Regions from separate parts of the Homo sapiens genome. Here all the other regions are linked to region 3. The links come from fine-mapping of genetic effects on gene expression. A gene starts in region 3. Each other region holds a variant in brackets. All regions are shown on one strand. Distances are from middle to middle. Region 1 has its middle 39 kb from the start of TLR4. Region 2 has its middle 25 kb from the start of TLR4. Region 3 holds the start of TLR4 (toll like receptor 4). Region 4 has its middle 32 kb from the start of TLR4.

What was found. PIP is the estimated chance that this variant, and not a neighbour inherited with it, causes the effect. A credible set is the group of variants that fine-mapping cannot tell apart.
Region 1: its variant is the best candidate, but not a certain one, in a credible set for the expression of TLR4 in tibial artery (GTEx, PIP 0.59).
Region 2: its variant is the best candidate, but not a certain one, in a credible set for the expression of TLR4 in tibial nerve (GTEx, PIP 0.88).
Region 4: its variant is the best candidate, but not a certain one, in a credible set for the expression of TLR4 in whole blood (TOPMed, PIP 0.53).

The regions. Positions count from the first base shown.
Region 1 is chr9:117,662,643-117,668,504 of GRCh38, forward strand. No RefSeq gene overlaps it. Among named protein-coding and RNA genes, the nearest start is that of TLR4, 39 kb to the right of the region's middle. The variant A/G (reference allele first, on the strand shown) is at 2,479.
Region 2 is chr9:117,676,533-117,682,394 of GRCh38, forward strand. No RefSeq gene overlaps it. Among named protein-coding and RNA genes, the nearest start is that of TLR4, 25 kb to the right of the region's middle. The variant C/T (reference allele first, on the strand shown) is at 2,453.
Region 3 is chr9:117,701,859-117,707,720 of GRCh38, forward strand. It overlaps TLR4 (toll like receptor 4), which reads left to right and starts at 2,545. Exons shown (of 3, transcript NM_138554.5): 1 at 2,545-2,707. The coding sequence starts at 2,615. RefSeq lists enhancers at 1,967-3,166, 2,114-2,614, 2,515-2,564, 2,575-2,644, 2,615-3,115 and 1 more.
Region 4 is chr9:117,669,292-117,675,153 of GRCh38, forward strand. No RefSeq gene overlaps it. Among named protein-coding and RNA genes, the nearest start is that of TLR4, 32 kb to the right of the region's middle. The variant G/A (reference allele first, on the strand shown) is at 2,574.

The DNA.
Region 1 (5,862 bases), 39 kb before region 3:
TGAGAAGTACCTTATTAGGCATTGGGGTGATATACTGCTTAAACAGGAGAGGTCTGTCCTAGTTGCTTATGAATGCCTGAATTCCTTAGCTGAGTTCTGGAGCCACCCACAGATCTGCTATCTACCCCTGTGGAGCTGACTTGGAAGCCGTGAGTTGCAGACATTGATTTGCTGACCCTTAATCTGGGTGCAATCAAACAGAACACCCTGGTATGTGGCTTATGCACTCACTTGGTTCAGCTAAGGACAAGGACCTAAGTCCAGGTCACTTCCCCTGGCTCTAACACATCATACCCTGATTTACCTGTAAAAGCAAGTGCTTCTAGGGCAGCGACTTACAAACTAGGTTTCTGAGGAGGTAGCTTTGAGTTAGCCTGGGCGGAGGCAGGGGAAGGACTTCTTTGGGTCCCACATGATCTATCTTAGGCAGAACAGTTTTGATTATATTTATTTGCTATATATTTGGCTTCTCTTAAAAAGATAATTTAAAAAATTATTCTTGGGCTCATTTATTTATGTTTGGAAACAACCCTTTAGGGTAATTGTTTTGCTCTTTTATCTTCCTAATCCTTTCCTTGCACTCTTAAATATGGTGACCCTAGGATTTCTCCATAGCTGTATTAGTCCATTCTCACACTGCAATAAGGAAATACCCGAGACAGGGTAATTTATAAAGGAAAGAGGTATAATTGACTCACAGTTCTACATGGCTGGGGAGGCCTCAGGAAGCTTACAATCATGGTGGAAGGGGAAGCGAGGACCTTCTTCACATGGCAGCAGGAGAGAGAAGAGCTAGAAAGAGCAGGGAAACTCCTTATAAAACCATCAGATCTTGTGAGAGCTCACTCACTATTATGAAAACAGCATGGGGGAACCCACCCACCATGATACAATTGCCTCCCACAGGGTCTCTCCCGTGACACTTGGGGATTCTGGGGATTACAATCCAAGATGAGATTTGGGTGGGGACACAACCAAATCATATCAATAGCTATTTGTTTTATTTCTCCTAACGTAGAGTTGATGTGGAGGGTTGGCTTGTTAGGGGTGGAAAGGCAGTATTCCCTACCTCATGATCTCTGTCAATGCCCTTCTAAGCCACCCCGTCATATACAGCCTAATCAAGGGCTTCATAGATTTTAATGTGTGCACAACGGGTTATTTTATTAAAATGAGATTCTGATTCAATAGGTTGGAATGAAACCTGAGATTCTAACAAGCTCTGTGATGATGCTAATGCTGCTAGTGTGTGGACCACCCTTTGAGTCAAGAGGGCCTAGGTAAATGTAATGTGTTCAATACAAAAACACAACCTCAAGACAAATTCCTCTTTACCCCATTGCTAATCTAATTGTGGCTCCTATGTAGAAAACCTGGAGTTGCTACTGTTTCTTCACACTACGTTGCCTGGTATGAATCTTTCCCTATTCTGCCTACAATCAGGCCAGCAGATCTGAGTAGTGGGGGGAATACCTTGATACCAATCACTTGGATTTTTTCTTTTTTGTAACTGAAATTGGCAGGGGGTGTGGGACGGGAATCGCTATATGACAGACACCATAGCAGGCACTCACCATACAATATCACGTCTAATATTTTACATTTTGTAGGTACATGTATAAGAGCCATGTCCTGTTTAAGGAAACTGAAGTGATAGAGCTTAAGCTATAGAAATGGCTCAGTTCACTTTGTGCTGCTATAACTAACACCACCACCTGGGTAAGTTATAAAGAACAGAATTTATTCCTCATAGTTCTGGAGGCTGGGAAGTTCAAGGTCAAGGTGCTGGCATCTGATGAGGACCTTCTTACTGCATCGTCATATAGTGGAAGGCAAAAGGGAAAGAAAGAGCAAACCCACTTCCAGAGCCTCAAAAACATCATTATTCTGCTCCCTTTCCATCCAATAATGTAAATAGGCTGTGTCTTTTGTAAAAGTATTTTGGGAAAACAATCTCCTAGAATGACTCAGCAAAAATCAGCCTTTTGAAACTTTTATCATTCACTCATCTCTTTTCATCACCAACTCCATCCAATTAGTTTTTGCATCCTAGGGATCCTTCAATTCTCTCACTTGAGTGGTTTCAGTATTCAACTAACTGGGACCATGCCTGCTGTCTTGGCCACCACAAATTCATCCTGCATGCTATTATTAAATAAGATTTTCCAAAGATCTTTGTGTACTCTTCTCCTGAGACTCCTTCAATGACTCTCCATTACATACAAAATGAAATACAAGTTCTCTCACCTGGTATTTAATGTCCTCTATGACCTGGCCTCAGCCAATGTCTTCTGCCTTGTGTTTTAAATAATCATTACACAGTTACATTACAGCCATACCAGGATATTTGCCACTGGAAAATACAACATAAACTATATTAGTTAGGGGTCTCCAGGGACACAGAACTGATAAAATGTGTGTGTGTGTGTGTGTGTGTGTGTGTGTGTGTGTACAGAGAAAGATTTATTTTAAGAAATT[A/G]TATCATTGTGGGGCTGGTGAGTTTGAAATCTGAAGGGCAGGATAATAGGTGGGAGACTCAAGGAAAAGTTGATATTGTAGCTCTGTTTGGAAAGTCTACTTGGAAAATCTGGAAGCAGGATTTCCTCTTACTTAGGGGTCATTTGCCTTTTCCTCTTGAGGCCTTCAGCTGATTGGACGAGGCCCAGCCACATTATGGAGGGTAATCTGCTTTACTCAAAGTCTACTGATTTAAATGTTAATCTCACCTAAAATTATCTTTATAATAACATGTAGATTAGTATTTTACCAATAATTTGGGTACCATGGCTGAGCCAAGTTGACAGGACATATAAAATTAACCATCATTTGAACATCCACACTGCTGGGCCTGGAATGACATTCCCACTGCCATAAGGTATTTCTAGGTTGTCCAAATAAAACATATTTCCTTTATGGTTTTCCCTGCTACTCTTTGCATGTACAGCCAATGTAGTATTTTCCCTAGTTTGCCTTGTTTTGATCTAAACTATGTACATACGGGCTTCTTACTCAGATCATGGGCAAGTTTCTATGGGCTATAGGTGTGCATCTCCAGAGTGTTCACTGCAAGTGCATTACATTGGTCTGAACCTCCAAAAGTACACAAGAAATTAGTGTAGGCTGATTTCTTTGTTTCTATAGAGGTAGTGAATTGCACTGGGTGTTGCTTGTAGGAAAAGACTTCCTGGCTGAAATTCTAGCCCTGATACTTACTGTGCAACTTCAGGCAAGTGACTTAACCTCTCTGTTCCTCACATCTATTCTCTCATTTTGATTATTGTGAGGAATAAATGCATTAATACATTTAAGCATCTTAGAACAGTGCTTGACATATGGTAAATGTTCAGTAAATATTAACTGATAGTATTATCTTTATGGATATATGCTTCCAAATGTTGGAGTGGAGAATGGTGTTCTGCCTATTAAGAGTTCTCAAGATAGGAGATGCCCATTATTTGGAATCTTAGACCCTAAGAGTAGACAAAGACTTTATTGCTGCTTAAGTGCTGAAGGTCATAAATTCCTTGAAAATCCAGTGAAGGCTGTGTATAGACACACCTCATTTTATTGCACTTCATTTTATTGTGATTCACAGATTTTGCTTTTTTTTTTTTTTTACATATTCAAGGTTTGTGGCAATCCTGCATTGAATAAGCTTCTGAGCACCATTTTTCCAACAGCATGATGTGCTTACATCCTATCTCAGTGTCATCATGTTTTAGCAATAAAATATTTTTAAATTAAGGTATGTACATTGTTTTTTCAGACATGATGCTCTTTTTTTTTTTAAACAAATTCAAGGTGTGTGGCAATCCTGCATTGAATGAGCCTATGAGCACCATTTTTCCAACAGCATGATGTGCTTACTTCCTATCTCAGTGTAGTCATCTTTTAGCAATAAAGTATTTTTAAATTAAGGTATGTACATTGGTTTTTCAGACATGATGCTCTTGCACAGTTAATAGACTATAGTATAGTGTCAACATAAGTTGTATATGCACTGGGTATCCAAAAAGTTTTTGTGACTTGCTTTATTGCAATATTTGCTTTATTGTCATTGTCTAGAACTGAACCCACAATGTCTCCAATGTATGCCTGTGCTCTTTCCCCAGAAAAAATGCATGTGTATACATATAATTACTACACACAATTTTAAGAATTCACAGGGCATACCTCCCCATCCGTAAACACTTTAGGGATACATGTTAAGAATCCATAGTGTCAGCCGGGCGCGGTGGCTCACGCCCGTAATCCCAGCACTTTGGGAGGCCGAAGAGGGCAGATCGCAATGTCAGGAGATCGAGACCATCCTGGGTAACATGATAAAACCCTGTCTCTACTAAAAAATACAAAAATTAGCTGGGCTTGGTAGGGCATGCCTGTAATTCCAGCTACTCAGGAGGCTGAGGCAGGAGAATCACTTGAACCTGGTAGGTGGAGGTTGCAGTAAGCCAAGATCACACCACTGCACTCCAGCCTGGGAGACAGAGCAAGACTCTAGCACAGTGGTTGCCAATGTAATACTCAATGCTGAATGAATACATTGAGTCGAAAGGGTGTACCTCTCACTAAGGACTTCACCCATATCCAAGGAACTGTTCTGAAATTGTTCGTCCTGCAATAGTAATGAGATAAAATAAACTAAAGATCCCTTCTCCAAAGAGCCATATTAAGAAGATGAAGAGACACAGACCAGACTCAAGAGAGGCAATGGGTTCTGAGAACCTAAAAGAAAAAGTGTGCTCTTGGGCTCCACTGACCTGGGATCAAAGCCCAGCTCACCTATGATATCTTCTGAAGAACATCTAGCCTCTTAGAGATTTCGTTTCCTCGTTTGTAAAACATGAATGGTACTTTCCTGGAAAAGGTTTTCCAAAACTTAAAGGAGAAAATACAAGAAGCACAATGCACAATGTTAGTAGCAATGACATCAAACACAAGTCGTGGAAACAAGGATAAAAGTGATTTATGCTTTGTGTAGTCACTGCCAGGAGCATCAGAAATGCACAAATCCCTGTGCGCTTGTGATTGTTGAATGTAGCCCTGCCCACCCTGAAAAATGGTAGCAACCGCCATGGGGTCTTTCTTTTTCTTTTCCTTTTTTTTGGAGACAGAGTCTCACTCTGTTTCCTGGGCTGGAGTGCAGTGGCACATCTCGGCTCACTGCAACCTCCATCTCCTGGGTTCAAGCAATTCTTGTGCCTCAGCCTCCCCAGTAGCTGGGATTACACACGTGCACCACCATGCCCAGCTACTTTTTTTATTTTTAGTAGAGACAGGGTTTTGCCATATTGGCCAGGCTGGTCTCCAGCTCCTGACCTCAAGTGATCCTCCCGCCTGGGCCTCCCAAAGTGCTAGGATTACAGGCATGAGCCACCATGCCTGGCTCCCATGGTCTTGGGCAAACCAACAGAGAGTATGTGTCAGGGGCTTATGGAGTATCTCATAAGGCACCATAGTTTGTAAAAATCAAAGCACAGTTGTTTCAAAATCCTAACTACATATTAGAATCACCTGGGAGCTTTAATGAAAAGGGGATTTACAGGCTCTCCTCAGATTCAGAATCTGCCTGTTAGTACACTTTCAGCAAGAATATCAAATTGAGGCCGGGCGCAGTGGTTCACGCTTGTAATCACAAACACCTTGGGAGGCCGAGGCAGGCAGATCATCTGAGGTCAGGAGTTCGAGACCAGCCTGGCCAACATGGTGAAACGCCGTCTCTACTAAAAATACAAAAATTAGCCAGGAGTGGTGGCAGGTGCCTGTAGTCCCAGCTACTTGGGAGGCTGAGGCAGGCAGGAGAGTCGCTTGACCCCAGGAGGTGGAGGTTGTAGTGAGCCGAAATCGCGCCGCTGCCCTCCA
Region 2 (5,862 bases), 25 kb before region 3:
TCCACCCAGGCTCTGATACAACTACTCATGAGAGTTTAGGGCAAATCCTTTAACTTCTTTCATCCTTAGTTATTTTTTAACATTAAAATTTAAGCATTACTCCTTGTTCCTTTTTTCCTTTAGACAGTTCTTCTGAAGACTATATTATTTGAAGACTACTAAAGCACATTTAAAATAGAAATATATCATCTAGAATTACAGGTAGTAATTATATCTTCCAATTAAAAGGAATTAGAGGTGACTGTTTATTTCAAGCACATTCACAAACAACTAATTAAGCCATATTATAGGTCAAACAACCTTCTCTAGATTTGATATATGATAGATGATGATGATGAAGTTAATAGCCAACTTTGGAGTTTTTACCATTTTCCAGGACTGTTCTAATTCCTTTACGTGTATGAACTACCTTTATCTTGCAAAGAACCTTGTATTGGTGATACTACTCTTGTCATCTTTGTAGGTGAGAAAGTAGAAGCATTAATAAGAAATTTGTCCAAGGCCTCATACCCAGTAAGAGATGAATACAGAATCAGGATTCAAACCCAGGCAATCTGAATCTAGTGTTACAAGACTAACATTGAAAGAAAATATGGAAATAACATTGAATACAAAGTCATTTTAAAGCTACTTTAAAATTTTTAATTAAGTATACTATAAATATTTCTTTGATAAAGATTTATCAGTTCATTGATAAATGAACTGCTTTATGTTCATTGACCATCGTTAAAGACTTTGGAGACTTATAAATAAAACCTAGGGAAAGAAAATTGAAGGAGGAACATATATTTACCAAAGGTAAACAAGATTTGGAAGAGGAAGGGGTGGGGGCCAATGGAGATAATTAACATGCTCATGAACATATGAGAATTTATTAGCTAGCTATTGTTTCAATAATGATGCATAAAAAACCACCCCCCAAGTCTCAATGGTCTACAATGAATATTTATTTCTCCCTCACAGTTATCCAGGTCAATTAGGAAGCTTTAGTTCAAGCTATGGGTTGATTTTGATTGGCTCCATCTATCTTTTATTCCAGAACTTGAGTTTAAGGAACAGTGCCTCTAAGGGTGTATTCTTATGGTACAGGGCAGAAGTGCAAGAGACAAAGCTAAACAACACAAGCCAGTGCAAAGCTTATGGTTGCAATGGTTTAATTTTCATTCACATACATTTTATTGGCCAAGCAAGTCACATGGCCAAACCCCAAGTTGTCAGAGTGAAAAAGCTATAATCCATCCTCAGAGAACAATGCAAATATTAAAGGGGAAGGAAAACCATGTTCCAATAATACACTCAGGAAGTTCATCTGAAGTTTAAATAACTAAACCCTACTTAGTGAAAGGCAATGTAACTATCATTACTGGAGGAGGTAAGAAAAATTTTGATAGGAGAAAATATTAAACTTAATGGATAAACACATCACCACTGGGTGGTACTCATATCCCAGGACAGCTTTGTGAAGAATAGATCTGTATTAGGATGGTCAGAAGAATAAATTTTTAATACAACATTTACAAGTTGAATTTTTATAACACAAGCTGTGAATACATTTTCATTTCTACTTCATTATGTTAAAATGTGTAAAGTAATTAAAACAGTGCCTCAAACTAAATAATGCTATGAGTGTTTGCTACAATGATGGATAATGATGGTGTTGATGATGATGTCAAAGTTGTAGGGCATATTGCTCTTTGTATATTTCATTTCTCCTGAATTAACTCAGCAACAGGTTATGTAAGATAACCCAGAATCCTTATACCCTAGTGAAGGCACAATACCTTTCTTCAGGTTGCAGGTCCCAGGATCAAAAGACAAAAAGTAATATCTTCTGGTAGTACCAGACATTTTTAGTAACAGGATTTTTCTCTAAAGAATTAAAAATAAGCTACAAAGAGGTTTTGGGATTTAATGAGAAATGTGCAAGAAAGATTTGTTTCTTTTCCACCCACATTCAGTTTTAACTGCCAAGTATATATTGTGGTTGGGAATACTTTCTACATAAAGGGACAAAGTTTAGGAGAGAAATTGGTCCTTAAAATATTGGCAAAAATATGGCTAGGAATGACCCAATCTGGGAAGGGTTCATTATGTGCAGCTACATAACAGATAATCTTCTAATTAATTTATTCAAGCAAGGTAATATCTTAAAAAAGTTGTGCAAATCTTAAAAATATTCAAATTAAGTAGTTAATGTCAAAAATATTTAGCCAAATATTTTTGTTCCTGAGTGATCCACACATAGCAAGAAAAGAAAATACTTTTTTTTTAAAAAAGCAAATAACTAAATATCAAGTAACTGATAGCACTAGGGGAAAAAACAGAATTCTTGGGATAGCAAGGGATCTATTCATCATATTCCCTTTCTATTTGGAATACTAAAGGAGAATTTGTTTGGAAAAAGAATACCTTTCCAACTCCCTATTGTCATAGTTTGGGATTAAAGCCAGTA[C/T]GGTCTGTTCTTTATGAATGTGTCTAATCATAAAAGTATCCCAGAATCTGAGAATGTTTGCACTAGCAGCCCTTGATGACCAACCTGAGACAATGAGGTGAGAGAGTTTATGTTACTTTCTCAAGTTCACTGTTAGTGGGTAACCTGGCAGGGACAAATGACTCAGATCTTTTTATGCTAAGTCCAGGGTTCAGTTTATATGGTTTTGTCTCTCAACTGCTTATCTTTGAGAAGAATTAGCTTATGTTATTGTTTTCCTTGTCAGCAGAATGGAAGCATTGGATTAGATCAGTGGCTTTGCCGAGATTTTCCCTTCCACTTGGTTACTAAGATCCACTTCTTTAGAATCATTCTTCATAGGAAAAAAATGTTTCTTCTCCATTTTTGATTACTTTGTGCAGCAATTTCAAAGACTTACCAATCAAAGAAATCAAGGAAGGTATTGGATAGGAAAACTTTTGAGGGTTCCACATATAGCAGTTTCAACAATAATCAGATGTATTTCCTACTGGTCCTTTTTGCATTCAAGAATGATTATTTTTCTGAAAGAAAAAATTTGTTCTGAAATTTCTCAGAGAGCTGAGCTTTGGAAGGCATTCCATTTAGGAAGATGGAGTCATATCCTTCCTGTTGCATTTAGATAAATGTGGCTAATAGACAACTTTTTAACACATGCTTTCTGGCACGTAAATCAGCACTTCCAGGTTTGAATCTCAGGGATTCGTACTTTCAATTGTTGCCAAATATTCAACATTTGGCTCTCTTGATCTTTAGTATTAAACTTTTTTTGACTCCATCTTCTTTCTTTCAGCCACTGTTTTCATTATCTAAAAACAGACACTTAAAGAAATTAGTGATAATCAGTCTTTTCATAAAGCTGAAAAAGGCCTGAGATATTGTTTGGTTTCACTTTCAAGAGTGGTTAAATAACTGCTCAAGACTTCCATATGAATAATTTCTCCATTTGCAAGTTTTTATCTTTAACTTCTTCTTGGTTTTCTCAATGCCACAAAACCTTCTTAGTGACAGGTATTGGGAAAGACAAACTCTTTAGGCCTTCCTTCTTCCTTTGAGGACCAAAGACCATTTCACTTTTAATCATTTTATATATTGTCTCAACACTGCCTGCCTCTTTATTAACCACCTCTGTGAAATCTATTGCTATTAATCATCAAACACATGTCTGAGTATTACTGGCAATTATCTCTGAATGCTTGTTACCTGTTGGTTTTATTACTTGTTTTCTCCTAGAAGAATAGATTGTTTCAGGTCCATAACTCTGTTTTATGTGTATGCATTTGTGTGTATGTTTATATTATTAAATGTAATATACATTACATTTTAATTTATATTTTAAATTTAATTATATATTAAAAGTAATGGCAAAACTGCAATTACTTTTGCACCAACCTAATATTCTTACATTTTAAAATTTTTCTTTTAGATCTCAACTATCATTGCATGAGGTAAAACAATATTTCAACCAAGGATTACTAACACTTTGTTGCCTATGAACGTACATTCTTCCTGTTGCGTATGAAGGCAGAAAGTCAGTTACAATCTATGATTCCCCTCCATTTCATGTTATATCTACTGCAACAATTTTTTGAAGTCTTCCATAAGCTCCTTGATTTTATTCCTCCAGAAATAAGAAGAATGTGCATCTTGGAGTTTGTTTTATTTTAATTTATTAGATACTTGGGGAAATCAGAAATGAAAGAAGCAAAAATATGTAATCATTACTTTTTCAGTCTGTTTTTCTTTTCTTTTCTTTTTTTCACCCTTTAGACACTAGAGATAACTTGTTCACTCTCTATTCTTCTAAGGGTAACTACACAACAGAAGGCTGTATACTCTCACTTTTGGTTGGGTTGGAGTAGAAATATAATTTCTGTGTCTTAATGGTATTTTACTCATAAATGGTGCCTGAGGTGTACTAAGCATAGAAGAACAAATGAAATAAATGCTTATTCTTCTCTGAGGAGGATATTGTACTATAGTGGAAGAGGGCCTATTATCAAAGAACTTTCAGAGATATGGTTAGGAGAAAAAAAGGGATGAAAAGAAAGAAACTTATATTTGTTGCATGTCTACATGTACTATTTTATTTAATCTTTCCAACAATAGCTCTTACGTATAGATTTCAATAAATCAGAGAATTTGCTCAAGGATGCTCAGATGGTAAGTAACAGAATTGGTATCTAATGAAGGTCTTTCTGAATTCAAAGTCTACTGCCTCAAGATAAGGTACTGTGTATAGAAAATGTATACATGTAAAAATTAAAAGAAACATAGAGAATGTTCTTCTAGTACTCAGAAGAGGAGTTTTGATACTTGTAGATGGGTTATTTAGAAAAAGCTTTATGGAATGACCTTGAAACTGGATAACATGTAGAATGAAAAGATCTAAGTAACTCTAGTTTGTGCTCTTGTGTACACATGCATTGGAATTTTCTGAAAATTCTCTAGGCTTCAGTTTTCCATTGGAGTTTCTGAAGTCTATGGTTTATTTTAGTGTTAATTGCTTAGGAACAAGGAGCATAGGCTTCTGTGAAGATGTGTTGTCTTGCTTTTGAGATGTTGCCTGGAATAAGTACTGTTAATGCATGCACACAGTTATTTAAACTACTTGTTATTCTAGGAAGATGTTTTTTCTTTGCTTTGCTGAAGACCTCTCCTATTGAATATTTGAAAGATGTTTAGTTTCCAAGATATTTCTACTACTAATTTATCCATTTAGTCAGTATCGATTTATTGGGTGCATCCTTCCATACCTAGCACTGTCCTGTCTACTCTGGGATTTGCAGAAATGCACTGTGGGAAATAATAGGCATGGTCCCATTTATCAAAGATCTTATAATTTACTCTGAGTTATAACGACTGCAGCTTATATTTATTGATTTTGCTATGTGTCCAGAACAATTCTAAGCAGAGTTCCAGATTTGTTATCTCATTTAATCTCATACTGTATGAGGAAACTACTGTTCACTCTACAGAAGAAGGTCAGGCACAGAGAGGCTTACTAACATCACTGAAGCCACTTGGTTAGTAAGCGGAAAAGTGGTAATCCAAATTGCACAAGTGAGAAGAGTTGATATAAGTATTTAGTACTGCTGCAAGATAACGGACATTACAAAAGAGAATCAGAAGAATACAGATGAAGGAGATTAAAAAATCAACTCAGGATGAGGAAGTGGAAGCCCATTATCCTCACTGACACAGTAAATAGTGTTAGAGCCTGAACTAGAACCAAGATTTAAGACCTTATTTTGTACAGTTGGCTGATTGTAGCACTTCACAAGCTATGATATAATTTGCTAACCAGTGGTAGAATTAAGAAGTTCTGTGCAAATAGAAAATATCTCAAAAATCTCTGACCAAAAGCCTATACTTACCCGTTTCAGAGGAGA
Region 3 (5,862 bases):
TAGTTGTCTGGTACCTGGACCTGTGATGATTAGGGCTGAATAACGGTGTCTACTTGGGTGTAAAAGCCAGGTAGAGGAGGTGGTTCAGAGGAAGGGCTCTGGATTGCTTAGTGTGCATAAGGCATGCTCCAGAGCAAATCTTTTGCTATTTTTTAGAACTAACTAGCCCTGGTAAGTGCAGTCTCTTCCCAGATGCCAGAACATCAAGAACACAGAAAAGAAGACAATTGGGTTAATACATGTTTAGCATGAGAAATGAGGAAGTAAGGGAAATAAAGTCAAAGAGATTTCCACCTTGGATGACTATGTCAAAGTGAAACACCATTAACTTTCCAGGGAACTAAACTTTATTGAGCACCTACTCTGTGTCAGGCACTGCTCTAAAATCTTTACATGAATAATCTCAATACTCAGAGCAAAGCTTTGACATGGAGGTTGTTTTTATCTTAACTCTACTGGTGTGTTGATGGAGTCTACAAGAGTTTGTGCCCAGTCCACCACAAAATGGTCCCTCACAGCTTGGTTTTTGACACGTTGGATTGGAAGTGCTTGGAGGATATTACAGTAGAACTATCTAGGACTTAGCATGCATAATATTCCTGTTTTAAATCAGGTTCTTATTTAACAGAAACTTACATTGCACTTGCTACTTTCCAGACACTGTCCTAAAAGCTTTACAAATGCCAGTTCATTTAATCCCAATACAATACTTTGAGATACATATTATCATCTTCATTCTATCCACATTTTCAATCCTCATCATAGCTCTCATTTATGGAATGTAATGATGATGCTCTAGACTAGACGTTTTACGTAAGTTAGCTTAATTCAGTAATTCAAAACACATGCGATTATCTTCGTTTTAAAGACCAGAAAACTAAAGGTTGGTAGGTTTGTATAATTTGACTACCATTGCGTATCTTTATTTTAATACATTTTATAAATGCAAGCTTCTGCTATGATTAAAAGTGATTACCACATTTTACAGACCAGAAAGTAATAATAAGTGTTGGTGAAGATGTGAAAAAATGAGAACTCCTGTACACCATTTGTGGGAATGTAAAATGGTACAGATGCTGTGGAGAATCATATGGTGGGTGCTCAAAAAATTAAAAATAGATTTACCACATGATCCAGCAATCTCACTTCTGAGTACGTATCCAAAAGAATTGAAAACAGAGACTTTAAGAGATATTTGTACAACCATGTTTATGGCAGCATTATTCACAATAGCTAACGTGTGGCAACAATGCAAGTGTCCATGAACAGACAAATGGATAAGCAAAATGTGGTCTATACATACAATGGAATATTGTTCAGCTTTAAAAAGGAAGGAGGCTTTGATCTATACTACACAGAAAAGAACCTTGAGGACATTATGCAAAGTGAAATAAGCCAGTGACAAAAAGATACATACTGTATGATTCCACTTCTAAGAGCTGCCTAGAGTAGTCAAGATTATAGAGACAAAAGTAGTGCATAGATTCAAGGGCCTAGGGAAAGGGGAAATGGGGAGTTATTTATTAATGAATAGTGGTGATGATTGTACAAAAATATGAACATAATTAATGCCACTAAATTGTACACATACAAATGGTCAAGATAATAAATTTTATGTTATGTCATGTTATGTTATGTGATTTTACCATAATACAGAAAATGAAAAAAGAAAAGAAAGAAAGTAAAGCTTAGCGGTTTACATGACTTGACCAATGCCTCAAAGCCATGAGTCACCCAGCTGAGATCTGAACTTCAGTATATTCCATTCTGAAATCCCAGACTTTTCCCAATCTTCTTGTACTTTTCAAACTGTGTTTCAGTTGAGGTTTATTTTCAGTTTTGTATGTGAGTTTCTTCACAAGAAGGGGCGGGCCAAATTGTGTCCTGCAAAAACCTACATATCGAAGTCCTAACCCCTCTACCTCAGACTATGACTGTATATGGAGAGAGAGCCTTGAAAGAGGTATGTAAGGTAGAATGAGGTCATTATGGTGGGCCCTAATCCAACATAACTGGTGTCCTTATAAGAAGGGGAGATTAGAATTCAGACACACTTGCTGACACCTTGAGTTCAGACTGGAAGCCTCTAGAATTGTGAGAAAATGAATGTCTGTTGTTTAAGCCACCCAGTCTGTGGTATTTCCTTATGGCAGCCCCAGCAAACTAATACAAATAGTGTTTCCACAGCTGAAACAAAATTGGAAAATCACCGTCATCCTAGAGAGTTACAAGGGCTATTTTAATAGAACCTGATTGTTTTCCTAAATTCACCAAGCCCAGGCAGAGGTCAGATGACTAATTGGGATAAAAGCCAACTAGCTTCCTCTTGCTGTTTCTTTAGCCACTGGTCTGCAGGCGTTTTCTTCTTCTAACTTCCTCTCCTGTGACAAAAGAGATAACTATTAGAGAAACAAAAGTCCAGAATGCTAAGGTTGCCGCTTTCACTTCCTCTCACCCTTTAGCCCAGAACTGCTTTGAATACACCAATTGCTGTGGGGCGGCTCGAGGAAGAGAAGACACCAGTGCCTCAGAAACTGCTCGGTCAGACGGTGATAGCGAGCCACGCATTCACAGGGCCACTGCTGCTCACAGAAGCAGTGAGGATGATGCCAGGATGATGTCTGCCTCGCGCCTGGCTGGGACTCTGATCCCAGCCATGGCCTTCCTCTCCTGCGTGAGACCAGAAAGCTGGGAGCCCTGCGTGGAGGTATGTGGCTGGAGTCAGCTCCTCTGAACTTTCCCTCACTTCTGCCCAGAACTTCTCACTGTGTGCCCTGGTTTGTTTATTTTTGCAAAAAAAAAAAAGAGTTAAATTACCTTAAAGACTCAAGAAGCCACAGAGATCAAATAATTCATTGTTACAGGGCACTAGAGGCAGCCATTGGGGGTTTGTTCCATTTGGAAATTTTGAGTGCTAACAGGGGCATGAGATAACATAGATCTGCTTAAGGTCCCTGCTCTGCTACCTTGTGGCTCTGTGAAGAAATTATCAAACCTGTCTGAGACTAGTTTTCGCATCTGTAAGAGAATTATAATACCTTCTTCACTAGAGAGTAAGCAGACTGCTTCAGTGTCATTTCTTCCCACTGGTGGTCTTTACACTCAGCTTCAAGCAGTCACCCTGCTCCTTTCAATCTCAGGAAAAAGATGGCTTTTGTGTGTGTGTCTCTAGAGAAAGAACTTTCTAAGTGGGTGTCAGACTTCTGTATGCAGTAATATAGTTTAGTCCAGAGGATGAAAAAAATAAGAGAATGAAAAAGGAAAAGAGAGAGAGAGAGAAGAAAAAAGCAAGAGGGAAATATGTATAATGTCAGCTAATGCAACAGTTTCTTTCTTAGTGAAATACCAATCAGCTGGTTGGTAATCTTATTCATGATGGATCTCTTTTGTTTTTCCCCTGCGCAGACTTCACAGTTGCTTTAGAAACCCATAGTAGAGCCGAACAGCTAAGAAAATGATTTACAGTGAGGCAGGGTCAGAAACTCAAGAGAGAAAAAGCCAGCTGCAGTCCTGAAGTTGAGGATATAGGAGAAAATCAAGTAATATTTAGCAAAGACTAATTCATTATCTTGAAGCCATCCCTTCCCTCAATTCCCTGCCCATAGTCCTCCTCCTTGTCCTCTTCTCTGTATCCCTCTGCTGTTAGGTTAATGGAGATAGATTTTCTAATTAGGCTCACTGCGAGATAAAACCACAGCCAAACTTGACTTCTTTTCCCCATGTACCTTTTCCTGTCAGTCCCTGAAGCCTGTCCATCCCTGCCCATCCCCTTAGTTCCACTGTAAGGCAGGCCCTCATTTCCCCTGGCATTGACTCTTACACACTAACTGCTTTCCTGATTCCAGTCTTCTTCCTTTAATTCATTCTGCACGTTCTTGTTTGTTATGTACTTGCATTTGTTGTTATTATTTTTCCTTAGGCTTCAATCTAACAAATTACTCTCCTTAAAAACTTTTAATAACTCTCCATTGCCATTAGAACAGCTTTCTACCACAGGGCCTTTGCACTGGCTATTTCTTCTACCTAGAATGCTAGATCAGTGCTATCCATTGGCAATATTATGTGAGCCACATATGTACTTTTAAAGTTTTTAGTAGCCTCATTAAAAAAAGAAACAAGTGAATTTAATTTCGATAATAGTTTTATTTAACTTAGCGTATTTAAAATAATGTTTAAAATTTTAATATATATTTACCTATTATTGATATTTTTACATTCCTTGTTTGGTACTAAGTCTGGAATTTAGTATATGTTTTACATTTACCACACTTCTCAATTTACACTATTCACATTTCTTGTGTTTGATAACTGTGTATGGCTAGTGACTACCGTATTGGTCAGTGCAGCCCAAGTCCTTTTCATGCTTTAATCACTCCATTCAGATCTCTGATTAAATGTCCCCTCCTCAGGGCAGTCTTCCTTGATTGCCCCATGTAGAGCTCTCCAGCCTCACTTATTTGCCTCAAATCCCCTTATACTGCTTAATATTTTTTTTTCTAGAGCACAACATTTTATATTTTTGTTTGTTTATTTTCTCTCTCTCCCTTTGTAATGGAATCGGTAAGGAGGCAGGATCATTGCTGGTTTTATTTACCACTATATTTCCAGTGGCCAGCACACAGTAGCCGCTAGATGTGTAAGTGATAAATGATTGAAATAATTGCTGCAGGACAAAGTCTGAGGCCCTCCTGATCTGGCTTGCCCTCTTACTTAGATTTCACCACTCCCACCACTCACCAGCTAATCTGAGTTTGTTTTCCACTCTTTACGTGCTCACGTTGTCCTCTCCTTAGGACATGTTTTTCTTCCCCTTTCCACATATCTAAACCTTACTCATCTTCCAAGACCCACTTTAAAATCTTCCTTTTCTGGGAAGCCTTTCCTGAATCCAGACTTGATCTCTGCTTTCTCTGAACCACAGGGCATATTTTCTAAGCCTATTTTATGGCCCCTTGAGATAGTGTTAGCTTTGCTCCTATCTAAACTCTTACTCTAGACTGTGAGTCCATTGAAGTCTGGAGCTGCATCATATTTTTCTTTGTAATGCCCACAGCACTTGGCAGGAAATGCCTACAATTTGGACTTAAGTAAACCTTCATTTAATCAGTTATTCAATCAGTTAGTGATTCAGCAAATATTTATTGAGCACCAACCATTTGCCAGACACCATTCTGAGTGCTGGAGACAAAGCAGTGGGCAAACCCATCAAACTTGCAATGGAATACAGGAGATGAACAATACGATGAGAACAATCAGATAGACAACATAATGTTAGATGGTTGTGCTTCCCGTGAAAGGGAATAAAAGAGGGCAAAGAAAGAGTGCCTGGCACTGTTTCTATTAGACAATATTGTCTTTGAGGCTCCATGGCTTGCAACATTTAAGCAGACATACGAATGAAGATCTGCATGTTTGAACTCTGACTTTGCGCATATTACTTCATTTCTTTGAATTTCCATTTTCCTCATCTTTAAATGCTTATTTGAAGATTAAGTGAAAGTATATAACAAACAAGAACTATGCAGGCATATGGTAAGGGATTAATGATAGATGATAATAATTAATGTTGACATCTATTGATCACTTATACTGTAGCGGGCTTTTAAATAAACTCTTTAAACACCTTATCTCATTTAATCCTTCAAACATTCTATTGGTTTCAAACAACAGAAAACTACAATTAGCTGGCTTCTGCAAGGAATTTTGTTGGAGGAAATGAGAGCATTCAGAAATTAGATGGGAGCGTTAGAGAATTAGGCTTACAAAGAATGTGGGAAAGTAGGCTAGAAAGCAGTGTAAAAACAAAGACAGCATAAAGCACTTGACCTTATTTACTAGGTTCCACCATGGGAATCCATGCAC
Region 4 (5,862 bases), 33 kb before region 3:
TTGAAAGGAGGGGCTCTGAATGCTCAAAGTCTTGGGAAGTTTGAGAGCAGAAGCAATTTTATGACATAAGGAAGAAAAAAAAAAAGAAGAAATTGCTCCAAGAAATATAATGGCAAAAGATGGTTTAGATAAAGGTGTGCTCAGTAGCTGTGTGCAAAAATGTTTGAAAAACTGCAGATGAAAAGAATAGAGTGATACAAATAGCCAGGCTTGATGAGAACAGAGGACACCAGCATCCCAAACCATGAGCCTCATCGCTGGCAAGACCAGGATTGAATCCATCCTTAAGTCTTAGGCATATAGTACCCCTTACGATGCTGTCTCTAGAGAGCATATCTATTTACATGTCACAAAAATAGGAATGCAAAATAATTTATTTGGGAATATGGAAAAGTTGACCTTTAAACCATCAAAGTAAAATAAAGAACACCTGAAGTGAATTAAAATGGCATCGCCTCCCAGAACTGTTTTCACCCAATTTATACCTTTATTTACCTACTGCAAACGTGCTAAATGAGAGCCAGTTACAATACCCATTAAAGAGGGTCCTAAAGTAATTCTTTTAAATTGGTTCTAATGGCCTTAAAAAAATACCCACTGTATTTTAGAGGAGTAAAGTAAGAATGACAGGGAGAGAAATGTTAGTGCTACTTTTATCCACTTTGCTTTCTAGAGCAACTTCGACCTTTGGAAGGGGAGGATGGTGAGTAGGGTGTTAGTTACATCATAATTATGCAGAGCTCCTAGTGTAATTTTGAGAATTAAAGGAGATCATGTATGTGGAGCATCTATCACAGGGATTGAAGCGTAGATAATGAACAATATAGGGCATTTTCCTTTTTTGTCTATTCAAACTGTAAAAAAAAAAAAAAAGAATATTCTTCATACAGACCCTAATGATCCATGAAGAAAGGATCTTCATGTCAAAAGAGGACTTGGAAATGGTAGCAAAGACCCAAGAGAAAACTTACTTACCCTTATTAAGAGAAAAATATTTGGGGAATTAATTATAGCACTTGAAATAAAGTTTAAGAAAGAATAGGGTGGTTTAGATTTCAAATGCATGTAATACAATGGGGCTTTTATTTATAGAATGAATTTTCTCTTTGAAGCCTGATTTTTCCACCTCATTTTCCAGTATATTGTCTTTTAATTATTCTCTTAGGGGCAGTCATGAGGCCCTTTGCACAAAATCCCCCAAATTATATCCAAAATTTAATACAGTGCTTGGCACATAGCAGATGCTTAGTAAATATTGATAAGAAATTATTGCTAGATTATACAGAGAGGGTTTTCATAAGTGTGCAGCAGCTTACGAGGCAGGAAATAGAATGTCTATGGTCACTACTGATTTAGGCGTGAAAACAGGGAAGGCTTTGTGAATTAAAGAGATAACTTTTTTATACAAACATTTTATCAATCTGTCTATAATTTTTATCTTTTGTATCAACTCGTATTTGCCAAATATCTACCATGTACTAGGCACTGTACTGGCTGCTAGGGGTAGGTTTATGGGATTTGTGGAAAGAAAACAGTAATTAAGGCTTGGTCTGGATTTTTTTGTGTGTGAGACTGAGTCTCATTCTGTTGCCCAGGCTGGAGTGCAGTGGCATGATCTTGGCTTACAGCAACCTCCTCCTCCCAAGTTCAAGTTATTCTCATGCCTCAGCCTCCCGAGTAGCTGGGACTACAAGCGTGACCCAACACGCCCAGCTAATTTTTGGATTTTTAGTAGAGGTGGGGTTTCACCATGTTGGCCAGGCTGTTCTCAAACTTCTAACATCAGGTGATCCACCCGCTTCGGCCTCCTAAGATCTGGCTTTAATGAAAATGAGGCGGTGTAATATACACTAATAGCTTCATGTAGGTAAACAAGACAAAACCAAATGTGGGAGAGGATGGGATGCATTAGCCATGAGGAGCATGGATGTTTCATATGACCTTTCATTCTCATTTATTCCAAAAGTGTATGCACGTTTTCTGATTATAAAATCATATTAACCCACTGTAAATAATTTAAACAATATATCTTAAACTATGTGATGGGTTCGCATGTACCTATGACAATTTCTCTTTATTATTTCAAAATTATACTTATAGATTATATATATACTTTGTATTATGATGTATTTAATTTTTTTAAGTTTTAGAAAAATAATTCAAACAGTTTAGAAAAGTACAGAGAAGAAATTCTGTCAATCACGTAAATGTCAATTGCTAATACTATGTTGAAAATCCTCTGAAATCTATTATTTCTTATGGGTACTCTTGTACTCCTCCATTTCTTTCACTGCACCTAAACACATACATGCATACACACACACATACACACACATGCACACACACACACAGAGAACATTTTGTATAAATGAGATCATACTGTCCATGCTTCCTGTGGTCTGCTTTTTTCACTTGACAAGATATTATCTCTCTATGTCCATAAATGTAGAATCCTAGTGTCCTTTTGATGAACACTCACTTTCTCCCTGTATGAGCAAAGATTGTGCTTTAATTAATATGTGCCATAGGATGGATATCTAAATTGTTTTCAGATGTTCATGTGTGTATATGTA[G/A]GTGTGTGTGCATGTGTGTGAATGCATGTTTTAATTTTCTAAAGAATTTATGATGATATTATTGCATAGATATCTTTGGAACTTGGCTATGAGTCATCATAGGATTAATTTCTAGAAGAAAGTTTTCTTTGTTTTTATTTTCTGCCCTTTTTGAAATAATACTTTTTCTATTTTGTAGGTTTTTTTTTTTTTCCTAAGAAAAGGACACTCTAGACCCAGCACTGGGTGATAACACACAATTTGACTTGTTTGAGATATATTCAACTTCATCATTTGTTACTGTGGTTTTCATGAATAAAATTTCATGATTGCTTTTCTTTACATAAAAATTAACCAAATATTTGCAGTGCCATTAGTTGAAATTAAATTAATGTAAACAAATTTTTAATTTTCATGAAGTTGATGTTTCTTACATTTTTCTTAAAAATAAAATTTTGCAGATCTCAACTTACTCCATTTTTTTTCAGAGAGATTTAGCAATTATTACTTGGAACTAGGGAAAGAGATGGCTCCTTTACAAGGACAATTTTGATTAGGTAGAGAAGGTAAGGTTTATAAACTTATGCAATCCATGATTTTAGGCTCCATCCTTCCTGTGGTTTATTCTTGAATCACCCAGATTTACTTCAGGCCTCTTTCAAAGACCTCCTCTTACATAATCTCCCTTTTGTGTTTATTAAATGATTCAGGTCAAAACATTGACCAAGATGATTCAGGTCAAACAAGGATGTGTTATGTCCTTGAGCCAAGCCCCATCTTCTCTTTCCTCCTCCACATTTTTGCCTAGAAATATCTACTGTGACCTAGGAAGATAAGGTATTCAAAGAATGCCCTGAAATGACTCATGACCACTAAGAAATAAAAAGCCCTAATATATTAAAAATTGCGATACAAAAAAAAAAGGTCTGGTATACATTGGCATCAATAGACATTCAGGACAAAATAACTTTTGATTTGCTATTAGAAGGAGGAAAGAAAATATGGACATCTTTCTTTATTTGTAAAATCACCGTGGATATCTTAGAGCATTGTTAGAGTGACTATAACAAAATCATTCATTTGAAGCACAAAGTGTATAAGCTACATTAACTCCGTTCTTCCCACTTTCCATTGATAGTGTGTTTATGATCATTAATAGCAGTTCTGTGACTTGAATTGTGTCCACCCCCCAGATTTATATGTTCAAACCCTAACCCTTATGTGATGGTATTTGGAGGCAAGGCCTTTGGGAGATGATTAGGTTTTGACAAGGTCATGAGGGTGGGGCCTTCACAATGGGATGACTGCTCTTGTTTAAGAAAAGTCACCCCAGAGCTTGCTCTCTGATTCTCTCTCTCTCCCCTCTATGTGAGGACACAGTGAGAAGGTCGTTGCCCAGAATGCAAGCACAATGCCCTCCCCGGAAATCAATTATATTGGCACCTTGGCCTTGGAAAAAACTGTGAAAAAATAAATTTCTGTTATTTAAGACACCCAATTTATGATTTTTTTAATGTGAGCTCGAGCTGCTTAAGACAGTAGAAGTAGTATCTTAATTTCCAGCATCTGCTTCATCACTTTTTCTTCTTTTCTCCTCTGCTGCTTCCTCCTCCTCCTCCTCCTTCTCCTCCTTCTTCTTCAAGTTTGTTTCCCCTTTCTTGCTTTTCTCCTTTTCTCCTTTTATTTCACATTAACGACTGTTTTAGTTCTTATCACTGTTGTTTTTCTTCACTCATTTATTTCATTCTTTTTACTTTTTTTCTTATGATTTCATCATATTCACCTTTGTTTCCCTTTTTCCACATTTCTTTTTATCATTCTCATTTCCCTTCATGTTTGTCTTTCCTGTGATTTAATTCCTTCATCATTCTTCTCTCTTCCTCATTTTTTTCCTTTCTTTTTCTCTCCTTCACTTCCTCTTTCTCTTCTTTGTCCTCCTTTTTTTTCTTTCTCTTCTTCCATGTTTCCATATTTTTCCTCCTCTCCTGGCCCAGCCTATTTCACCATCCTCACGTCTTCTTCATTTCTTGTCTCATCTGTTCTGTTTCTTGTGTCCAGAAGGAGCACCAGTGCTTCCCTTTCATCTTTTTTCTGCTAAGATGCCTCTAGGAGTGGATGTATTGTATAAGCAAAGGTGCAAAACAGCAGGAAGACAGATGATGAGCAGCCCGCCCTCAGGAAAACTCTCAATATAAAGAAACAGCTCAATCCAACCTCTCTGCCCTGTCTTTTTTCTTCTTTATTTTTTTCTTTTTAATTAAAATGCCTGCATTTGAAACTTTTTTGCTTTCTTCAAAAAAGTTTTGCTGACATTCCTCAAGAGGAAAGATAATGGGCACAAGGTATTTTCCAGCCTAGCAATGAACAGTACAGAGAATGAAAAAAGACACGAATAACAAAAAGAAAGCGTAAATTTAATCACCATTGTCATTTTATCATTGGTATTATGAAAAATAACAATCTATCATGTATTGAAGTTCTCTGTATATGCCAGACACACACATCATTTCATTTAATTTCCATGATATTCCTATGAATTAGACATAATTAGTATACCTGTTTTGCACAATGAAAATCTAGGCTGAGGGGATTAGAATTGGCCCAAGATTTGCATGCAGGGCCAATTGGGGCTGGTTAGGACAGTGCCACTTTTATGGAGCTTCCAATATTTGTGAGGCAACATGATGTATTAAATCATGCAGACCTGGTTTAAATTCTGATTCCATCAGTTTCTAGTCCTAGACCATATATATGCATTGTCTGAGTAAATTTTCACAATTATCTGTTAAGTTAATTATATTACCCCCATTTTACAGGTGGGGAACCTTATGTTCAGAGGGCATAGGCAACTTGTCCAACATCACACAGCTGTAACTCCAAAATGTAAATGTTATGTACTACATCGAGGTGGGTTTAAGGACTAATATAATTTCTTAGGCAAAAAAGGCAGAGGAAATTCTCCAGGGATGGAGAAGGGAAGCTGTAGTTGAAACACGAAAACAGGGAAGACATGAGCATGGTACTTATAAGACAGTGAAGATATGAGCATGGCACTTACAGGACAGTTAAGACACTGATCTTTCTGGCTTGTTCTTGCTTACAAACTTGTGTGGTGACTTATCTTTGTAAGTTGAAATTTCTTTATATTTAAAATGAATATTTCTAAATATAATAACACCTGTCCCTATAATTGTTACATATATCAAATTTTACACAGCCAGAAAAAATAAAGTAAAATGCAATACGTAAAATAAAAGAAACACTAGCAAAATTTTTCCAAGTATTGTAGCATATGTGGCAGACTTGCATC